Regions from separate parts of the Homo sapiens genome. Here region 1 is linked to region 2. The links come from fine-mapping of genetic effects on gene expression. Tissue or cell type: whole blood. Region 2 holds a variant in brackets; the other region holds the start of a gene. All regions are shown on one strand. Distances are from middle to middle.

Region 1 (8,154 bases), 110 kb before region 2:
GTGGAAGTCAGTGTGGTGATTCCTCAGGGATCTAGAACTAGAAATACCATTTGACCCAGCCGTCCCATTACTGGGTATATACCCGAAGGATTATAAATCATGCTGCTATAAAGACACATGCACATGTATGTTTATTGTGGCACTATTCACAATAGCAAAGACTTGGAACCAACCCAAATGTCCAACAACGATAGACTGGATTAAGAAAATGTGGCACATATACACCATGGAATACTATGCAGCCATAAAAAATGATGAGTTCATGTCCTTTGTAGGGACATGGATGAAACTGGAAAACATCATTCTCAGCAAACTATCACAAGGACAAAAAACCAAACACCACATGTTCTCACTCATAGGTGGGAATTGAACAATGCAAACACATGGACACAGGAAGGGGAACATCACACACTGGGGACTGTTGTGGGGTGGGGGGAGGGGGAGGGATAGCATTAGGAGATATACCTAATGTAAATGACAAGTTAATAGGTGCAGCACACCAACATGGCACAGGTATACATATGTAACAAACCTGCACGTTGTGCACATTTACCCTAAAACTCAAACTATAATAATAATAAAATGTTTTAAAAATTCAATAGATTTTACAATATTTTTAAATAATTATGACTTTGTATTTATACATTTTATTTGTATTAGTATGTTTTCTTACATTAATTATACTTTTTATAAGGACAAGATCCGACTCAGTACTGATGTTCTTTAGAGCCTACTTACACATTTCATTGTATTTTACTTTAGTAAGAAAGCCACAAAATAAAAATCTACATTAAAATATGTGTGTACAAAAAAAATCTGATTCCCAGCCTATTCCTGTTTGCAATTGCTGCAACATTAAAATATAGCACATCAAATACATATTTGCTTCTCGGCTAGGATCGCCAAAGAAAAAACATCTTATGATTTGTGGTTGCTGTTATTTAATCTTCCCTGAGCTTCATCTTCCCTCATCTGTAGAAGGGGAATATTATTGAGTTTGGAGTGCTTTTGTAATGATTAAACACAGTAGAAGATGAAAAGTGCCCAGTGCAATTAGCAGGCCTTCAATCAAAATAAGCAAGCTAGCTAGCTAGCTGGCTGGCCAGCTAAATAATGCTTCCCTACATCCAGAATTTCCAGTTGTTTCATTAGATATGCACATTCAAGTTTTTACTTAGGTAATTTTAAATGTGTCCCAGTGGCAAGTGTCCTGCTAAAGGGGTACTGTTAGCTTCTTCTCACCTAAAACTTAGTTTGTTACAAAGGAAATGCCAATTATGGAAAAAGTCAAGCCTTGAGCTACTGAAGGCCGAGTAACCTCGCCAAAGTTTGGATGAGTCGCTTCACTAATGCACATGCAATCCTGACCTAGAGATCATGTGAGTTTCTGCGTTAGAAGGCGGGCACCTGATGGCTCCCAGTGCAGCCAATCAGGAGAGAACGTTGCCGCCACACCCACCTGCTCCGCGCTGGCCCTGGGAGAGGAGCCAACCTGTCTTGCTTTTTTTTTTTTTTTAACCAGGCTAAGCTGCTGTAAATTAAGTCTTCCTGGAAATCTCAGCAACTCTATTGGACGTGCTAATGGCACAGTTCACTCCAAACTGGATTCATATTTAAATATTACATATCCTCCAACTCTTGAGTGCTTTAATTTTGTTATCTGGTTAGCCTGGGAAATCATTTTAAAAATACGCTATAAGTATCAGACTTTCCCTTAGCAATTATATAAAATCTCCTTGCAGTTTTCTGAAAGGCACAGAAGTGCAGTTTGATTTGGTTGTCTTATCAAAGGACATTTATGCATGAAAATAGGCTGCAGGAGTATTCTATATAAGATAGCAGGCAGTTCTGCACGTCTGTTTATATGCCATTCACACCATGAACACATCCAATGCAATTGTATTCATCTTCTGTCATTTTTTAAAATTAGAGTTTACTACATGATTTTTGGAGGACGGCCATATCATAGTTATTCATCCCTTGCATGGTCTGTTCTGCCACTTCTAAAGTTCTGCGAAGTTTAATTTTTGGCAGGTTTCAAGATTCTCTACATACTTTGTAGGTTAGAGTGAACGTGCACAGTATATTGTGTAATAATTGCAATACAAGACGGTGTGTTGTGTTGTGGCACGGAATGCATCAACTTAAAGATAGAATTGTTATGCAGAATAGAGACCTTTGAAATATTTGGGTATTATCAACTTTTATTTCATTTTTTGAGAAAAACTTAAAAAGTGAGCCCAGTTTTTTAAAAAGCATTTCATTGTTCTAACCTACAATTGTGCATTGTATGTTTGTGTGTGTGTGACGGAGGGTGGGATGAATAAAAGGGGACATTAAAAATATTCAGACCATAAATATAGTAGATTGGAGGTTCTGATTTGATGAGCCAGTTTCTCAGCCATAAACTGAGAGGGGGTTGGGGATACACTTCATTGTCCTTCCTGGCTAATGTAAATCCCTTATATTTAAAAAGATATTTAAAAGTATTCCAAGCATTTTGGCAGAAAAGCATAGTATCTAATGTTATTTTTTTCTTATTTTATGTGCATGCCTCTTATCCATTTAAAAATAGCTTTACTGACCTATAATTTACACACTATATAATTCTCCCATTGAAAGTGCATAATTCTGTTGCTTTTAGTATATTTACAGAGTTGTGCAGCATCAGCATAATGTAATCTAGAACATTGTCATCAACTACCCCCAAATCTCTATTCTTCCCTTCCCCTATTAATTACCCAGCCCCAGGCAAGCACTGATCTACTTTTGGTCTCTATGGATTTGTCTATTTGTGGACACTTTAAATGGAATCATACAATATGTGTCTTTTGCGACTATCTTCTTTCACTTATCATAACTCAATACGGCTTTAGATTATTTGACCTCGATGTTCTGCCTCTGAACATAAAATATTATCCTTGCATTCCTTGATGAGTTTGAGGATTGAGAATAATTTGCATGAGACAAAAATTAGAAACTAGTTAGAGCAAGTAGGCTTTTCTCCATCACATAAGCTGATCCATCTTGCCAATGTTAAAACACCAGATTGTACAAGCACAAGCTGGGACGCAATGTGTGTCCCTCTATCCCTACATTGACTTTGCGGGGGTGGGGATGGGGTGCGGGGTGAGTGAGGGAGGACTGCAAGTGACAAACAGGATTCGTCAAAAGAGAGGTGTATTAAAGTGCCGATCAAATGTAATTTAACAGCTAAACTTTCCCTCCTTGGAAAACAGGTGATTGTTGAGTATTTAACGTGAATCGATGTAAACCTGTGTTTGGTGCTTAGACAGGGGGCCCCCGGGTAGAGTGGAACCCCTTAAGCTAAGCGAACAGGAGCCTAACAAAGCAAATTTTTCCGTCTGCCCTTTCCCCCTCTTCTCGTTGGCAGGGTTGATCCTCATTACTGTTTGCTCAAACGTTTAGAAGTGAATTTAGGTCCCTCCCCCCAACTTATGATTTTATAGCCAATAGGTGATGAGGTTTATTTGCATATTTCCAGTCACATAAGCAGCCTTGGCGTGAAAACAGTGTCAGACTCGATTCCCCCTCTTCCTCCTCCTCAAGGGAAAGCTGCCCACTTCTAGCTGCCCTGCCATCCCCTTTAAAGGGCGACTTGCTCAGCGCCAAACCGCGGCTCCAGCCCTCTCCAGCCTCCGGCTCAGCCGGCTCATCAGTCGGTCCGCGCCTTGCAGCTCCTCCAGAGGGACGCGCCCCGAGATGGAGAGCAAAGCCCTGCTCGTGCTGACTCTGGCCGTGTGGCTCCAGAGTCTGACCGCCTCCCGCGGAGGGGTGGCCGCCGCCGACCGTAAGTTTTGCGCGCAAACTCCCCTCCACCTGCAGACCCGGCGGGTGGCCACTGCCACCCGAACTGAGGATGAGAAGAAGGAAGTTGGAAGGGGCGGTGGATGCGCCCAGGGACTCTCCCAGCCTGGGCTCTAGCCCCGAAACGGTCCCCGGAGTGGGATCCAGGAGGGGCCGGGAGGGAATCTCCTCCCGATCGTGAAGCGGCGGCGCCCAGTTCCCGCTTTTTCTCTCTGCCGGGTTCCCGCGCTATCCCTTCCACTCTGGCTGGGACCGCGTTCCCGGGCTCGCAGGCTCCGCCGGGGAGGTTCCGGGGTGTGGGGGCCGGGACGGCGGAGGCGGGGAGTAAGGGCCCGGCTGGCGGTGACCTGCAGTCACCTCTCTGCCGGAGGGGCCCTGGAATGAAAGGCGCGCGGGCCAAGGTGACCTCGCCTTGGTTGGCACTGCGGCTCAGCCCCCGCCCGGGGACTCGCGGGCCGACTGTGGCCCCTTCTGGGGAAGCCGGGGCGCGGGGAGGCGTTCCGGGCATCTCAGCCGCACGGGGTACGCTCGCCCTCGGCGGGGCCCCTCGCTCCGCTGTGGGAGTGGCAGTGGGTGTCGGGGTGGAGAAAGTACGCGTGGCGCGGAGTCCTGGGGACGCGGCGTCCCACCCGCTCTGGGGAGCCCCGGACTCTCTCCAGCTTCCAGGCTCGCATGCCCCTCTTTTCTTAGTGCCCTGAGAACCCAGCGAGGGGCTGACCCTCCCGAAACCGTGGCGCAGCCACCAGCAATCTGTGGTCGCCGACTCGGGGGGTTGCCAGGTCTGCGTTTGGCCACCCTTTCTGTCCTGGGGGCTGAGGTCAGCTCCGGGCGCCCGGCCCCGCCGCGCGGCTGCGAGCACGTGGGGTTGACGGGCGCCGCGTGGAGGCAGCGAGCACAACGGTGGTCACCGCCGCCAGGGAACCGCCCGCTCGCTGGGGTCCAGGCGTTCGGGGCCAAATGAGAATGTCTCAGACCTGTCCGCAATGGAGGCAGCCTGCTTAATTCGAACCTCGATTCAGTAAACATGCAACAGCAGCATAGAGAGCAGCTGAAGCCATTCATAACACGGGACAACATTTCCTTTTTTCTTCCATGCTGGAATTGCAATTAGGGCGGTGTCGCTTGGATGTGCTCTCAGGCGGCACGTCCCCAGCGGTTCAAGTTATAATAGAGTCTCTCCATAGCTTTGATGGCCGCTAAACGTTTGTTTTATTTTGGCATTAATTTGTGAAACATTTTTGTTAGGTTAAAAAACAAAAAGTTGGCAGGGAGCAGTGGCTCACCCATGTAGTCCCAGCACTTCGGGAGGCCGAGGCCGGAAGACAGCTTGAGCCCAGAAGTTCGAAATCAGCCTGGGCAACATAGGGAGACACCGTCTCTATAAAAAAAAAATACAAAAATTAGCCGGGCGTGGTGGCCTGTGCCTGTGGTCCCAGATAGTCAGCAGGCTGAGAGATCACTTGAGCCAGGGAGTTTCAGTAGACTGCAGTGAGCTGTGATTGCCCCACTGCACTTCATCCTGGGTGACAGTGAGACCCTGTCTCATAAAATTAAAACAAAACAAAACAAACACTAAGTATAGATTCCATCAAAGCAAAATTGGATAAGAAAAAAAGTATCTTTTCTATTGGATCAGTTTGAAAACACTGGAGAGTTGATGAGAAAGTCTTCAACATCTTAGGTGGGGTATGTTTCGTATGTTTCCCTTCGTACTGCTTAATGCTGACAAGAAGATGGTAGGAGCCAACTCCAAATTCTTATTTCAGAAAGCACACCATAGAATAACGTCATTTTCATTGCAAAACAAGCACCGAAATATGTCATCACATTCAAGTTTTTCCTAGGCTCCCTTACAGGTTCAAGATCCTAAATTCTTGGGAGTCAGTGTCACCTCTCTGGGTTTAGGTTCCTCAACTCTGCAATGAGTTTGGATGAGGCCAATGTTCTCTGAGCCTGGTGTAACTCTTGCCTCTTTAAGTGGACACTTATGTGATTAATTAGTTTAATTGAGTTGTAGCCAACACATGCTTTTCCTAGCTGTAAATATATTAAGGAAGGATTATTTCCAAGTAGACTGGAAACGATGCCCTCCCATCCCCTCCACTTTCACTCTACTCACCCAATATATCATGCCTCTCCCATCACAGCAACTTTCTCCCTCTTTCTCCTCCAGATGCATTCATCTAGGAAGGTAAGAATTTCAGGGAGAGAAAGATGTCACCGTGGTAGAAAGACAGGGATCACCTCCTCTGGGCTCTTGAGTTTACTTATTCATTCTGGATTCTTTCTAACAAGAATATGAGGACAAGAGGCACTGTCCTCAGGCACTTCGTCCTGGGAGCCACCACCATCTCTGCATGGCCCCAATTAGGAAACGTGAAGAGCTAGGAGAGGGAGAGTATGGTCAGTGCTTAGCAGCTGAAGTTCCACTTGCCTGGCCATCGTGAATTTCCAGGCTGTCTTCTGAGTTGAACATGATGGCAAAGGAGAGCAAAATAGCAGATGTCACTGAAGGAGAGCTCAGCGAGGGAGTGATTGATTAATAGCTGTATTGAAAGGTGGGAGTCAGGTACGGGGGAAGAGCGGCGATGGAAAATTTTCGCTTTCTTTCAGCAGCTTATTTTTAACTCAGCTTTCTGTTCTTGCTTTATTATGGAGGAAAAATTGGGCCATAGAGTTTACTGCCTTATGCCAGATTGTTCAAGAAAATGCCTTGCAACTTACAATATTTTGCAGCTAGTTTCTTCCGTGACCACCACAAAGACTGCATTGACTTAAATATGAAGATGTTCCAGCCATCAAAATGATGGTTGGTGATGATTTTGGATCACAAAGTGTAAGGAAAGTATTCAAGACATGAGTATCATGATTTTTTAAGGTCTGGATGAAGAGACCATTTGGATTTACTAATAAGGTAAATTCCAACTTTTATGGCAATAAAAACAACAAAAACACTTATCAGTGTAAAGCTTTGGGATCATCTATCCATTAAATGAGTTTGTCACCACAGTGAACTAAATACCTTTTATCAACAGAGACTTTCTAACCTGGGAGTAAAATTCTTGTCACAGTGCTTTTGTCACATTCTGTCTTTGCAAAAGTTGAAGGCTCCAATAGTTTCTGAAGGACTAATAGGATAGGGTTCCAACTTACTCAGAGGCTAAGAGTTTGAAATTTACTCTGAACGATGTCTGTTCACTAGACTGCGTGACTGCAGTTTGCTGTCTTGTGGCCATTTTAAGATTGTCTGTGTGCACTGACACCATTTGCGTACTCAACAACAGGTATCTACTAGGAAGGAAGGAATGGATTATCTTAGGTGCTATATATATATGTAAGTTCTGCCGGAAGTGAGCCTATTAAACTTGTGCCAATTCATTCCTTTTGCTCTTCCCAGTCTGTGCTCTCAGAATGATCAAATGCTATCTAAGTAGTGTGGTGATTTTGACTGTTTGAATGAATAAACGAAAACGTCTCCCACCATTATTTGACAGTAGAATAGAACAAAGATGACCCAGTTGGCGTGGCCACACTGTGTCTAATCCAGCCACCTTGCTCACAGCACTCAACCCACTTTGGTGTGTGCGCTCATCTGTATTTTCGTAAATGTTGAAGTCTCTTTCTATGCAGTCAGGTAGGGGTAATACCATTCTGGCTTGGATTAATTTGAGTGTAGTACAAAGTTTAGAGAAGCTTTTAAGTAGCATGAAAAGTCAGATGCTTTCGGAGGGATGGTGGTGAATGTAGGTAAATGGATCTGCACTTAGAGATCCTCAACAGCCCTTCATTCAAGATACAGCTATCATGACATCAATAATGTACCTTTGAAAAAAAATTGGCTGCAGAATTAATTACGGTGAAAAACAGTATAGGAGTTAGCACTTACATTTTAACTAAAAAGAATAGCGTCCCCATGTTTATTCAGCCCTCCCTCCAATAAAACAATTGTTGGCAAAGTAATCATGGACTTTCATTGTGTTAGTTTGAGACAACTGGATGTTTCCATTTGCCATCCTCAGCAACAAGAAGAAAGTAGTCTCAGATTAACCAGGTAAGTATTTTGTATTTCACTTAAAAAATCTTGACTGAAATATGCCTATGTGATGACACTCAACCAAATTATTTCATTAACCAGTCCACAAGATCTCCTTAAATAATGATGGCTTATTCACACTTGATGGTCTCATTCAGTGGGGCAATTTTAATACACATCTCTGAACCTATTTTTTAACCCCTCTTTTTCAGTAGTGTGGAAGGTTAGCCCTAATATTGGAGAAAATTCAGGGTAAAATTCAGATGATTCATACAGGATTTATTTTTCCTATT
Region 2 (8,202 bases):
GCTATGACTGACTGTATGCATATTTAGTTTATCCTTATTTCACAAAAGGAGTCGAAAATGGAAAAAAAAAAAAAGCCTTCATCCTAGTAACAAGAACTTATAAACTCAGAATGGAAATAGAAATGTCAAAATTTATTATTTCAGCCTCAATGAGACGTTCATTGGGTTCAAACCAGATTACTACAGGTTCACTTGTAAAAGAGCTTTGCAAAGCACCTTCTACCTTTAGTTTCTTCATTTACTAAACAGAGATAACATTTACCTTACCTCAAGAATGTTGCAAATTTCCCAGGGTGCATCAGATATGAACATTTTTTTATATTGTATTTTAAATTTTGGAGACGGGGGCTTGCTCTGTCACCCAGACTGGAGTGCAGTAGCACAATCCTAGCATACTGCAAACTTAAGTCCGTGGGCTCAAGTGATCCTCCTTCCTCAGCTTCCTGAGTAGCTGTGACTACAGGAGCACACCACCACACCAGCCTCCGGCTAATGTTTTGTTTTGTTTTGTTTTGTTTTGTTTTGTTTTGTTTTAAAGATATGGGGTTTCACTGTGTTGCCCAAGCTGGTCTCGAACTCTTAGCCTCAAGCAATCACTGCCTTGAGCCCAGGAGGCTGAGGCTACAGTGAGCTGTTACTGTGAGATGTTCACACATACATGCATACACACACGTTAATGTGGAAAGGAAACCACTTCAATTATCCCATAGAACTGATGCTTATGGTTTCTTTTGAATAAACATAGAAATTGACCCTCCCAGTCTTAAAACTTGAGAAAGTTACACTTATCTGAGTTCCTTTCTCAGGAAACTAACCATCAGGACTCCCAGATAGTATCAGGGAACTGAAACTTACCAGATTATCACATCTGGACAATGAGAAGCCAGACCCTTCACCCACCACGACTGCCTGACCACCTGCTTCCTATTGACCAATTCCTCTTCCTTACCACCCGCCCCACCCCCATTCCTGTTTTCCTGCATATCATTACATTCCTTCCCTGCTATATAAAACATTGATTTTAGTGGGTCCGAGAGAAGAATTTGAGACTGATCTCCCATCTCCTTGACCGCAGCATATTAAAGCCTCCTTCCCTGGCAATACTCATTGCCACAGTGATTGGCTTTCTGTGCAGCAAGTAACAGAACCTAGACTGAAACCCTGGCATTTCAGTAACAGAACGAGTGCATGATGTATGTGTAGGTATGGCTACATAGTTTATTTGTATATTTATTCATTTCATTCACACTTCGATTGTATGTGGCTATTAAGTTTCACCAGTGCTTCTTAACTTGCCTTAGGTGATTGCTGGTGGAATGATAGCGTAACATTTACTCAGAATTTAAAATAGAATTTACTCCCAACAATACCCCAGAAATTTATCCTTAAAAACTCTGTTCTTCGAATGTGTGGGGAGACTGATATGAGTAATAATAAAACTCCAGTCTCCCACACAGCCGGCTCTGTGTGAATTACTCTTTCTCTATTGCAATTCCCCTGTCTTGATAAATCAGCTCTGTCTAGCCAGTGGGCAAGGTGAACCCATTGGGTGGTTACAGGATTTGTTCTGTGACACTCTCTTTGGTACCCCCAGTATTAGTCTAGGGTAAGAATGAACTTCAAACTACAATTTAGACTCTGCTTCTTAGTTGGAAGTCTGCAGGGCCAGATGGAGACCACCATACAATTGGTCAGAAAAAGATAAGCCAAGGGTGCATGTGAAGCAAGAGAGAGATTTAAAAAAAAATCCCCCTTCAAAATGAGCCTGTTATGCAACAAAACCAAAGACATTTAATAAAATAGCCAACAGACCCAAAAACTCAGAATAGGAATTTGCTCTAGATGAAATTTACTTCCTGGAGCAGTATGAAAATGACTTTAAAATAAGGATGTTATGTAACTAACCTGCACATTGCGCACATGTACCCTAAAACTTAAAGTATAATAATAATAAATAAATAAATAAAATAAGGAAGTTTATGATGTTCAAAAGAGATAAGCAAAGACAAATTTGCATTAAAAATAACATATAATTGCTTTTAAGAACAGCAAAGAAGGATATGAAAATTAAGTCTTAACATTAAAATGTTTTTGTAATAAATTTAGATGTTAATAGACCAATGTTAGTAATAGTTAATATTTTTTATGCCAAGAACTATTTTCCATGCTTCATATATATATTGGCTCTCTTAAGATTCATAAACACTAGGAGTTAACTATATTATTCCCATTTTACACATGAGGAAACTGAGATCCAGAGAAGCCAGTAACTTTCCAAGCCCAATAGATAATGAATAGAAGTGGAATTTGAATCTAGACAAGCTGGTAGCAGAGCTCTTAGCTTTAAAATAACATCCTAATGCTGCCTATGCTTAAGTCTTGAATGAACAGTTGAAGAGAGAATTTGTGAAATGGAAGATTAGAGAAGTGAAATAAATCTAAACTGAAGATGGCACAGAAAGACAAAGAAATAAACAAGTAAATAGCAGCTCTAAGACACTTTGAAAGGCATTCATTTCCAACACTGGACTATCAGGAGCTCTGGCAGGACAGAATGAAAGAAATGATGGAGAGGCAGTATTTGAAGAATTAGTTAATGAGAATTTCCCAAAATTAAATAAATATGTGAATTTTCAGATCGAAGGTGCTCAGGACTGGGCAGGATAAAACGTAGAGCATTAGAGATAAAGAGAATCTTAAACACTCTTTAAATAAAGGGTAAATTACCCACAAAGAATTGAATGTAGAGCATACTTACCTACAATAGATGACAATAGAGTAATATTTTACAGTGTTAAGGGAAAATAATAGTAAACAGGATGTGCGCCCAGCAAATGTATCACCAGAGTGAAGGCAAAATAAAGGTATTCTCAGATATAAGATGCAGAAGTAATAAAGAGAATTCATCAGCTAATCACAAGTGTTCTAAGAAGGAAACAGAGGGAGATTTGATGACATATGAACAAGGAGAATGCAATAAAGGTAATGGAAGCAGAAATTGGAGTCATGGGGCCACAAGCTAACTAATGCTGGCAGCCACCAGAAATTGGAAGACGCCAGGGAGAATTCTTCCCTAGGGCCTCTATAGGGAGTTCAGCCCTGCCTGCATCTTGATTTTGGACTTCTAGCCTCTAGAACTGTGAGAAAATACATTTCTTTTGTTTTAAGCCACAAAGTTTATGCTAATTTGTTATGGCAGCCAGAGAAAACTAATACACCTCCTAAATTACAAACAAAAACAACAAAACAAAGCTTGAAAACAAACAACAAAAATAGAAATATTTCTATAGCTTTGAAAGAGCAGAGGTAAAAAGAAGTCCATGCATAATAGCAACAAATATGATAATGGACAAGTGAATAAAGCTAACAGATAAACAAGTATGAAAGACCTCAGTGGAGAAAAATCCAAACTACCATTAAAATAAATAATAGAAGACAGACCTGAGCTTTTTATTAAATAAATATAAAACGAAAAATATAATAAAAACTCAGTTCAAGACAGTGGTTACCTCTAAAGAAGGAAAAAGAGGAGGAAGTGAGAAAGATGGAATCAGGCCTTGACTGCATTTCTAATGTTTTATATCCTTTAAAAAAATCTGAAAATATCTGAAGCAAATATGGCAAAATATTAAGGGTCCTTTGAGTTCAGTGGTGGATATATGAATATTACATTATTCTCTGTTCTTATTTTTATATTTGCAATATTTAACAATAAAAATCTAAAAGAATAAAAGCAAAAATAAGTAAAATAAAGTGGGTCCCTTTCATAGCAAAGCGGAAAGAGTGTTCAAAAGATAGGCTTATCTCTTGCAGCTTGATTTCATTTTTTTCTAAGAGGCCTTGGAAGCTGTTGACATAAATAGGTTTACATTATTTTGACATCATCAAGGGCACTGGAATCTGGGCAGTGACTTCTAATGGAATTTGGCAAAGGCAGAACAATCATCTCTAAGCATGAGGGGAGGTGGAGATGCCAGAGTTGAGATATCATGTGTTCTCCTTTTACTTTGAAAGGGATTCAAAAACATAACTTAAATACTTTCAACAACTGTTTGTTGTTGTTGTGAGGTTTTTTTAACGCACTTCTTTTCAGATAACGTGGAAGGGATAGAGGCATTACGTGGACTGTGTAGTGACTGGAACCAGATGTGTGAGAAAGGAGAAATTGACTCAAACCAATGAGAGGTTGTATGACACGGCAGGACAATCTGGACCAGAATCAGGAAACTTAGTTCGAGTTTTAGCTAACTAGCTGCAAGGCATCTACAACTTTCTTTTTTTAAAAAAATTGTTTCATTTCTTTTTTTGAGACAGGGTCTCACTCTGTCACCCAGGCTGGAGTACAGTGGCACAATCACGGCCCACCACAGCCTCTATCTCCTGGGCTCAGGTGATCCTCCCACCTCAGGTTGCTAAGTAGCTAGGACTACAGACACCCACCACCATGCCCAGCTAATTTTTGTATTTTTTGTAGAGACGGGGTTTAGCCATGTTGCAGAGGCTGGTCTCGAACTCCCAGGCTCAAGCAATCCATCTGCCTCAGCCCCACAAAGTGTTAGGATTACAGGCGTGAGCCACGGCACCCAGCCAGTATCTACAATTTGTATCAACTCTCTTGGGTTTTCCCTTACCTATAAAATGAGGAAATAAGTTTAAATAATGACTGAGGTCACTG[T/C]GGGCATTAACATGCTATCACTAGCCCTTAGTGTGCCTTTTATACTTTAAATAAAACCACCTAAAAATACCTTATTTTTCTTGTTCCTAGGGCTCTTCAGTGATGAACGAAAAGTGAGGAGACTAGATCCTGAGACCGAATCACACTGTTTCTGCTTTTTAAATTAATTTTCTCATCATTGTCAGTTTTTTTTTTTCTTTTGAGACAGAGTCTCGCTCTGTCACCAAGGCTGGAGTGCAGTGGCCTGATCTCAGCTCACTGAAAGTGCCGCCTCCTGGGTTCACGCCATTCTCCTGCCTCAGCCTCCTGACTAGCTGGGACTACAGGCGCCCGCCACCACGCCTGGCTAATTTTTTTTATTTTTAGTAGAGACGGGGTTTCACTGTGTTAGCCAGGATGGTCTCGATCTCCTGACCTCGTGATCCGCCTGCCTTGGCCTCCCCAAGTGCTGGGATTACAGGCATGAGCCACCGCGCCTAGCCCGTCAATTTTTATTTTCATTGAGAGAATAAAAGTACATAAAAATTTCCCGGGATGACAACCTTCCATTCCTGAAAATTTGATCTCGTGACTTTTTTTTTTTATGAAGTTTTTTTTTTTTTTTAACTTTTATTTTAAGTTCAGAGGTACATGTGCAGGTTCGTTAGACAGGTAAATTGTGTGTCGCGGGGGTTTGGTGTGCAGATTTCATCACCCCAGTTAATAAGCCTAGTACTGATATGTAGTTTTTTAATCCTCTCCCTCCTCCCACTCTCCACCCTCAAGTAGGCGTCAGTGTCTGTTGTTCCTTTCATTATACAAAGTATTTTTGATATTTTAAAATTACATTAAGAAAAATCTCTAATACTTCTACCTAGAGATGAAAACATCTGAATAAGTATTATGAAAGAGAACCTGAAGTCATGGTTAGGTTAATAAGTTCAACTGCTTGTTCATGTATTGAGTCTTCACCAGAGGACATAACAGCCTACTGGATGGCTGTGGCAGAGACCAGTAATGCTCCCTGAATGGCCGCCTTTCCTTCTTCCTGTTGCTAATATAACCACCAGAGTTTTAGCTGGTCTGAATTATCAACACAGAACACTTTTGGTACCACCTGTGTGGGGATTTTCCCCAAGACAACAACTAAACAATCAATTCAGCAGTGAATATCAGCTGGGTGTCCTCTTAATTTTTCTTTTTTCTTTTCTTTTTTTTTTTTTTTGAGACGGGGTCTCACTCTGTGGCACAGGCTGGAGTGCAGTAGCGCAATCACAGCTCACTGCAGTCTTGAACTCCTGGGCTCAAGGGATCCTCCCACCTCTGCCTCCCCAGTAGCTGGGACTACAGGCACATGCCACCACACTTGGCTAATTTTTTGCAGAGATGAGGTCTTGCTATGTTGGCCAGTCTAGTCTAAACTCCCAGCCTCAAGTGATCCTCCTGCCTTGGGCTCCCAAAATGCTGGGATCATAAGTGTGAGCCACCCTGCCTGGGCCCTTTAATTTTACTCAATTCTGACATTGTCTACCTGGACATAGTGTCAGATCTCACAGGTTGAGGGCTCAGTCCCCAAGACTGTCTCCACTTCAAATGCCAGTTGCAAGTATAGGTTGTGACCTGTGTTTCTGCCCAGTCAGCTCTAAATTGGGGTTCCCATGATCCCCTCCTTGGGTTTGATTCGTTTGTTAGAGCAGCCCACATAACTCAGGGAAACACTTTACTTGCATTTTCTGTTTGATTTTAGAGGCTATTACTAAGGATACAGATGAATAGCCAGATGGAACAGGTGCATAGAACAAGGCATGGGGAAAGGGGCACAGGAGCGTCCATGCCTTCTCCAGTCATAATGAGAGGTGACAGCGTGCTGGCAGCCCTCGCAGCCCTCGCTCACTCTGGGTGCCTCCTCGGACTTGGCGCCCATTCTGGCCATGCTTGAGGAGCCCTTCAGCCTGCCGCTGCACCGCGGGAGCCCTTCTCTGGGCTGGTCGAGGCCGGAGCCGGTTCCCTCAGCTTGCGGGGAGGTGTGGAGGGAGAGGCACGAGTGGGAACTGGGGCTGCACACGATGCTTGTGGGCCAGTGCGAGTTCTGGGTGGGCGTGGGCTCAGCAGGCCCTGCACTGGGAACTGGGCAGTGAGGGGCTTAGCACCCTGGGCCAGCAGCTGCTGTGCTCGATTTCTCCCGGGGCCTTAGCTGCCTCCCTGTGGGGCAGGGCTCAGGACCTGCAGTCCGCCATGCCTGAGCCTCCCCCACTCCGCCGTGGGCTCCTGCGCAGCCTGAACCTCCCTGAGCGCCGCCCCCTGCTCCATGGCACCAGGTCCCATCAACCGCCCAAGGGCTGAGGAGTGCATGCACACAGCACGGGACTGGCAGGCAGCTCCACCTGCGGCCCCTGTGCGAGATCCCCTGGGTGAAGCCAGCTGGGCTCCTGAGTCTGGTGGGGACTTGGAGAACCTTTATGTCTAGCTAAGGGATTGTAAATACATCAATCAGCACTCTGTGTCTAGCTCAAGGTTTGTAAATACACCAATCAGCACCCTGTATCTAGCTCAAGGTTTGTAAAGACACCAATCAGCGCCCTGTGTCTAGCTCGGTGTTTGTGGGTGCACCAATCGGCACTCTATATCTAGTTAATCTGGTGGGGACTTGGAGAATCTTTATGTCTAGCTAAGGGATTGTTAATGCACCAATCGGCACTCTGTATCTACCTCAAGGTTTGTAAATGCACCAATCAGCACTCTGTGTCTAGCTCAGGGTTTGTAAATACACCAATCCACACTGTGTACCTAGCTAATCTAGTGGGGACGTGGAGAACTTTTGTGTCTAGCTCAGGGATTGTAAACGCACCAATCAGCACCCTGTCAAAACGGACCAATCAGCTCTCCATAAAACAGACCAATCGGCTCTCTGTAAAATGGACCAATCAGCAGGATGTGGGTGGGGCCAGATAAGAGAATGAAAGCAGGCTGCCAGAGCCAGCAGAGGCAAACCACTGGGGTCCTCTTCCACACTGTGGAAGCTTTGTTCTTTTGCTCTTTGCAATAAATCTTGCTGCTGCTCACTCTTTGGGTCCACACTGCCTTTATGAGTGTAACACTCACCACGAAGGTCTGCAGCTTCACTCCTGAAGCCAGCGAGACCACGAACCCACCAGAAGGAAGAAACTCCAAACACATCTGAACATCAGAAGGAACAAACACCGGACACACTACCTTTAAGAAATGTAACACTCACCGCGAGGGTCCGCAGCTTCATTCTTGAAGTCAGTGAGACCAAGAACCCACCAATTCCGGACACAGTAACACCCTACAGGAACCTCTACATGTTCAGCTATCAGAAACCTCCCAGAACCCAGTCCTTTGGGGTTTTATGGAAGCTTCATTATGTAGGCATGAATGATTAAATATTGGCCACTGGGATCAACTTAAACTTCAGCCCCACTTTTTTCCCCAGAGACTGGGAAGGGTGATGCAGGGTGGAGCCAAAAGTCCCAAACCTCTAATCATGCCTTGGTCTTTCTCCTGATCAGCCACTATCTTGAAGTGAT

What was found. PIP is the estimated chance that this variant, and not a neighbour inherited with it, causes the effect.
Region 1: it holds the start of LPL, and the variant in region 2 is fine-mapped to the expression of LPL in whole blood (TOPMed, PIP 0.99).

The regions. Positions count from the first base shown.
Region 1 is chr8:19,935,718-19,943,871 of GRCh38, forward strand. It overlaps LPL (lipoprotein lipase), which reads left to right and starts at 3,536. Exons shown (of 10, transcript NM_000237.3): 1 at 3,536-3,811. The coding sequence starts at 3,724.
Region 2 is chr8:20,048,106-20,056,307 of GRCh38, forward strand. No RefSeq gene overlaps it. Among named protein-coding and RNA genes, the nearest start is that of LPL, 110 kb to the left of the region's middle. The variant T/C (reference allele first, on the strand shown) is at 4,676.